2 linked regions of the Homo sapiens genome follow. The protein of the gene in region 1 purifies or fractionates together with the protein of each later gene. This does not show direct contact. Each region holds a gene or a part of one and is shown in the gene's direction. Other genes may lie near its edges.

The links.
Region 2: the proteins of YIPF3 (region 1) and SLC22A5 purify together in Homo sapiens (co-immunoprecipitation; 4 studies listed by BioGRID and IntAct, with this or other methods). This does not show direct contact.

What each region holds. Positions count from the first base shown.
Region 1 is NC_000006.12:43,511,332-43,513,926, reverse strand, and holds the end of YIPF3 (protein YIPF3), read left to right. Parts: intron 1-293; coding exon 294-339; intron 340-475; coding exon 476-568; intron 569-726; coding exon 727-858; intron 859-1,052; coding exon 1,053-1,166; intron 1,167-1,363; coding exon 1,364-1,487; intron 1,488-1,611; coding exon 1,612-1,760; 3' UTR 1,761-2,095; downstream 2,096-2,595. UniProt on the Homo sapiens protein: Involved in the maintenance of the Golgi structure. May play a role in hematopoiesis.
Region 2 is NC_000005.10:132,390,210-132,393,709, forward strand, and holds part of SLC22A5 (organic cation/carnitine transporter 2), read left to right. Parts: intron 1-480; coding exon 481-695; intron 696-2,223; coding exon 2,224-2,406; intron 2,407-3,466; coding exon 3,467-3,500. UniProt on the Homo sapiens protein: Sodium-ion dependent, high affinity carnitine transporter. Involved in the active cellular uptake of carnitine. Transports one sodium ion with one molecule of carnitine.

The sequences.
Region 1 (2,595 bases):
TACATGGTCGGGCCCTCCTTCAAGGCCCAGTAGGGCTGAGTTCTCCATATAGCTGCTGTTTCAGTCAGCTAAGTTTCAGAGGGTTGTCCTTCCTGGAAGTAACTTTAGGGGCAAGGAAATGATTTCCTCATTCCCTATCTGTCTTTACTACCCTGTTCTACCGTGTCATCCAACATGTCTTCTAGGCCAGGCCCCATTCCCTGGAGTTAGAGATGAATAAAATTCAGGCCTTGCCCTCCAGAACCTCATGGCCTTGTGCTGCCTTTGCTTTAATCTCTCCTCTCCTCTCCCAGGCTCCTGGAGTCCATGATCCCTATCAAGATGGTCAACTTCCCCCAGGTGAATAGAGGGTGGCATGTCTGGAGAGCCGGGGGAAGCACCAGGGCAGAGGGTGGGACCACCAGGCAAATCCTGGGAAGCCATAAACAGATGAGCTGTTGTACCCTCCAGCCTGAATGAATTGGTATATTGACAGAAAATTGCAGGTGAACTCTATGGACCTCTCATGCTGGTCTTCACTCTGGTTGCTATCCTACTCCATGGGATGAAGACGTCTGACACTATTATCGTAAGCAGGACAGACAACTTTGGGGGGGTGGCTGCACTAGGTTGAAAGCTGCCTGAGGATACAATGGTGGAGTGAGACAGGAACAGCCCCTGCGGAAGGCCCTAGGTGAGGCTGAGATCAGAGGCCTCCTAGGACTAAATAGAGCCTTCACCCCACAGCGGGAGGGCACCCTGATGGGCACAGCCATTGGCACCTGCTTCGGCTACTGGCTGGGAGTCTCATCCTTCATTTACTTCCTTGCCTACCTGTGCAACGCCCAGATCACCATGCTGCAGATGTTGGCACTGCTGGTAAGGAGCCAGGTGTGGTGGGCAAGAGTGATGTTAAAAAGAGTAGCCAGGCCTTGGTCGGCATCTGTCCTGGGGCCCCAAAGCCTGGAATGGGAGGAGTAGGCCAATGGACCATGTGTTTCCCAGGGTCCCCATGAGGGGCCAGAAAGCAGCCCAACCTGAATGATTTTCCTCTCCACCATCCTCCTTCCCAGGGCTATGGCCTCTTTGGGCATTGCATTGTCCTGTTCATCACCTATAATATCCACCTCCACGCCCTCTTCTACCTCTTCTGGCTGTTGGTGGGTGGACTGTCCACACTGCGCATGGTAAGCTGGGCAAGAGGCTTCCAGGGGTGGGCTGTCCTCCCAGGGAGTTGGGGAAGACAGCCTGGAGCTGTCCATCTCACAAAGAGCCCTAAATGGGAGGGAAGAGCCCAAAGATGGTTCTGCCCTGGGTGGGGGTGTCTTGTCCCCACTCCTCACTTTGGAGCCAGGCCCTTTGAGCTGTATTCTCATGGTCCTAGGTAGCAGTGTTGGTGTCTCGGACCGTGGGCCCCACACAGCGGCTGCTCCTCTGTGGCACCCTGGCTGCCCTACACATGCTCTTCCTGCTCTATCTGCATTTTGCCTACCACAAAGTGGTAGAGGGTAAGTGGCAGGAAGGTCTGGGTGGGGGAGAATGGGAAAGCAGCTGCCTAGAGCAAGAAGCTAGATATGATGGCTGGTGGGCTGGGCCCATCTGATCCTCGCTCACCTTCCATCTTCCTTCCAGGGATCCTGGACACACTGGAGGGCCCCAACATCCCGCCCATCCAGAGGGTCCCCAGAGACATCCCTGCCATGCTCCCTGCTGCTCGGCTTCCCACCACCGTCCTCAACGCCACAGCCAAAGCTGTTGCGGTGACCCTGCAGTCACACTGACCCCACCTGAAATTCTTGGCCAGTCCTCTTTCCCGCAGCTGCAGAGAGGAGGAAGACTATTAAAGGACAGTCCTGATGACATGTTTCGTAGATGGGGTTTGCAGCTGCCACTGAGCTGTAGCTGCGTAAGTACCTCCTTGATGCCTGTCGGCACTTCTGAAAGGCACAAGGCCAAGAACTCCTGGCCAGGACTGCAAGGCTCTGCAGCCAATGCAGAAAATGGGTCAGCTCCTTTGAGAACCCCTCCCCACCTACCCCTTCCTTCCTCTTTATCTCTCCCACATTGTCTTGCTAAATATAGACTTGGTAATTAAAATGTTGATTGAAGTCTGGAACTGCAGCGGCTGATCCAGTGGTCCTCCCTGTCATCCCGCTTCCTATATACTTTCCTACTCAGTCAACAGTGGTAATGTCATATGTTCCCTTCTTCATATCCTCACCCAGGCAAGATAAAGGTGGGACAGGCCAGACTACATAGAAGGCAGTGATTGAATATCACACCTGACCCATGAAGCGGCAGGGAGGCCTCAAGCACAAAAGCCATAAGCCTGATGGAACACTGCAGCCAGCTTGAGTCTGGGCTCAGCTGCTCTCTTGGGAAGCCAAGGAAGCAGTGACAATTGAACAAAACATCCCGACTTAAACCCCGTGTCAAAACAAGGATCTTCTGCACCTGGGCATTGTGTTGATAATTTTCCTGTGGAGCTCTTAATTGAAGCCAAATTTGGCTTTGCCTTGGTGGTACTGGGGCCAGCTCCTTTTAGTTTTTCTGTCTTTCCTCTTAAAACCAACCACCACTCCTAACATAGCACCATCCACCCCCACCACCTCTTTA
Region 2 (3,500 bases), on another chromosome or scaffold:
GTAGTGTGTGAGGGTCTCTCTCCAAGTGTTTGACCTAATGTTGTTCCTTTTGTTATCTTATCCCCCAAATCCTATCACACCTCACTTGATGTCTGCCTCCTGACTCATTCTCTAGCTCCTTCTGCAGTTGCTGGATTTGAGGAGGTTCAGCTTAGGATTTTTAAAGCTGAAAGGCAGGTTGGAATTTTTCTTTTCAATGAAGTAAATCTATCTGAATTATACAAGCTTTTTTGCTGGGACACTGTCTATATGGAAGGCTCTGAGAGCGCACTGGCGCAGGGTTTACACTGTACCACTTGGGCTGGGGAAAATTATCTTTTGATCTATGAAGTAAGACGCAGGGTTACAGTTACTGCTGCCTTACTAGTCTCTGCTTAAAGATGGTTTGGAATTTACTGAAATAATTGCATTGTAAAAGTTGTACAGGTTGGGAAAGATGTGGATACTGCTTTTCCAGCTTTCTTCTGCACTCTGTTTCAGGATGACCATATCAGTGGGCTATTTTGGGCTTTCGCTTGATACTCCTAACTTGCATGGGGACATCTTTGTGAACTGCTTCCTTTCAGCGATGGTTGAAGTCCCAGCATATGTGTTGGCCTGGCTGCTGCTGCAATATTTGCCCCGGCGCTATTCCATGGCCACTGCCCTCTTCCTGGGTGGCAGTGTCCTTCTCTTCATGCAGCTGGTACCCCCAGGTAGGGACCATGTGCATCTATGGTTTGGGGTCTTCACTGAGTCTCTTACTGTCTACCAGGCTGTCTCAATTAATAAAGAGAATAAAATCAAGCCCATCACAGCTCCCTTGCTTATATACATTCTTGGCCTAAAAATCAATAGAAAGTGTCTTCTGAGACTAGAACACTTATGGCCTGGGCTTTGAGGGAGTGGGAAAAAGCAGCCATTGGGGCTGTTGGTTAATTTTACTCTGTACCCAAGTTAATGTGCTCATACTGTTTTCCACTGCAGAAGAAGAGGGAAGAAATAGCTATCCCATTCCTTTTTTTCCTGGCCCTGTCTTCTTTATTTATTCAACAAATAGCTATGGCATGCCTACCATGGGCTGGGCACTGTGCTCGGTGATAACGATACACAAGAAAACAAGCCAGGCAGAACCCCAGGCCCTCATGGAACGTACACCCTAGATGAGAAGACAGACAACAAACAAGTAAATAAAATGCTTAATATAGTTCAGACTGTGTTACCTTCTAGGAATACAAATGAAGGACAATGCCGAGTTAGTTTACATAGTCACAGATAGTGTCCCTGAACAGGGGGCAGTTCAGTAGAAATGTACATAAAGTGACAGAAAGCCCTGAAAAAGTCTAGGAGAACATTTTAGGAAGAAGAAATGGCAAAGGCAGCGACCCTGAGCAGGGGATGAGCCTGGCATGTTTGAGGAGGAGGGAGAAGGGGAGGGGCCAGACCACTGAGAGGGCCTCACAGAGCCTTAGCAGGATTTTATTTCTGAAACTATCTTAGTATCCCACAGATGGGTGGGAGGTAGCCATTTCCAATAATTTATAGAACAGTTCATGGGCCCTCATCTCTCCCTCTCCATCACTGTGCCCAGAGACTTCAGTGTACCTGTAGATTTGGGAGCCTCTGATGGTCACTTTTGGGCCCATCAGGCTGAGAACACTGCACGGGAACAGCTCCCCATGGGATGTGGCAGGAGGAGCCCAGAACTGATGTAGAGGCTCACAGCTGAGCTCAGAGTGACCTTCAGGTCACACATAGCTCTCCCATCAGCACAGCACAGAGAGATTAGAAGATCAACTTGAGATTCTGATGGCCTATGATTTTTTTGAGGTCTGAGTGGGAGGAAAGCATGAAATGAGTTAGAACTGAATTCTCCATTCATCTAAACATCATGAGTTAATTCCATAGTGCCTGCAGTGTGAGGTTCTGGGGTGACAGTTAATCCCTGACAGACATGTCTTTAATGACTTATAGACTGGGAAGCAGGTTGATTGGACTATTAAGGAGCTTACTCTGGTGGTCTCCAGGTTGAGGAAAGTGCATGTCCTTATAGCTGCAGGTCCCAGCCTCCTTTCAGCAATCAATTTGGAGGGAAATCTTGGCTATAGCCCCTTCCCCCACAATAGGAAGTGATAGAAACTGACTCCCCAAAAAATTTGGGAAGAAAGTATGTTTGTTTTGCTCTCAATAGCTGCATGCCATGGGTTGGTACCTACTCCTACCCTCTTTCCTTTGCTTCTCCAGACTTGTATTATTTGGCTACAGTCCTGGTGATGGTGGGCAAGTTTGGAGTCACGGCTGCCTTTTCCATGGTCTACGTGTACACAGCCGAGCTGTATCCCACAGTGGTGAGAAACATGGGTGTGGGAGTCAGCTCCACAGCATCCCGCCTGGGCAGCATCCTGTCTCCCTACTTCGTTTACCTTGGTAAGTCCCATGAGCCAAGGGCACACTAGAGCAACGGGATGGAAGTACTAACTGGCTTGAATGTGAGCTGGAGGTTGCGTGTTAACAGGAAAACAAGTTCATACAGTACATGGGCTCCATCCAGTACTGGATCTTTGGCCGGGAAGGGTTCTTGTCCCAGTGCACTGGCCCTCACTTTCAAATGGAAAACAACCTATAGATTACCTAGAAATTGATGAGAATATTAGAGGGTTTGTTTCTGTTTTAGCCATCCCAGGCCTTCCATCAGAGACTACAATTCCTTTATCCTAAGAACCTACAGAGTGGTTTAGGGAGCCAGTGTGCTTAGTTGGAGAAATTTCTTGGAATCAGAGTTTAAAAGGAACATGAGGGGAAAGATGTCCATGCAAGAGGTCTGATGAACGGAAAATTATTATAACCTAGAGCACTATAGAGTGATTTTATCTTGTGTGAAGATCCACCCCATGCCATTTTATGTAGCAGGTCTCCAGTTTTCTCTTCTCAGAATTATGTCTTCATAGCACCTGTGGTTTCCTGCACATCCCTAGCCAGTACCTCTTTAGGGAGGGTGGCACCCACCTGAGAGTACTCAGAGTGCTTTGTGAACATGCTATGTAGATCTCAAAGCAAGCAAAAGCACCCTGCCTAATCTGAAGGCAGATCACATGGGCTGGGACACATCTGCAGAGGTGGAAGAGTTATTTCCATCCCTGGACAAGTACCTCAGGTTCCTTGGAAACCCAACCTTGGTAAATAAGAATAATCAGCATGGCCCAGAAATAGGAATAATCAGCATGGCCCAGCTCTTCTACTGCAACCGCCCCTTTGTACTCCTCCCCTGCATGGTGGAACACTGCTGGGCTCTGGGCATGCCTGTGCCAGCTCTGGGTTCTGAAACCTGTCTAGATGCCAGATTCTAATCTGACTGCTCAGACTGTGAGAGATGTGAGACCAAGAAGGAAAGTGATCCCCTTCCAGAGTCCTGGGAGCATAAAGGGGTAGATGAGAGACCAAGTCTAACTGCAGCCCTGGGCCTGAGGCTCCGTCTGCTTTGCCATAGGTGCCTACGACCGCTTCCTGCCCTACATTCTCAT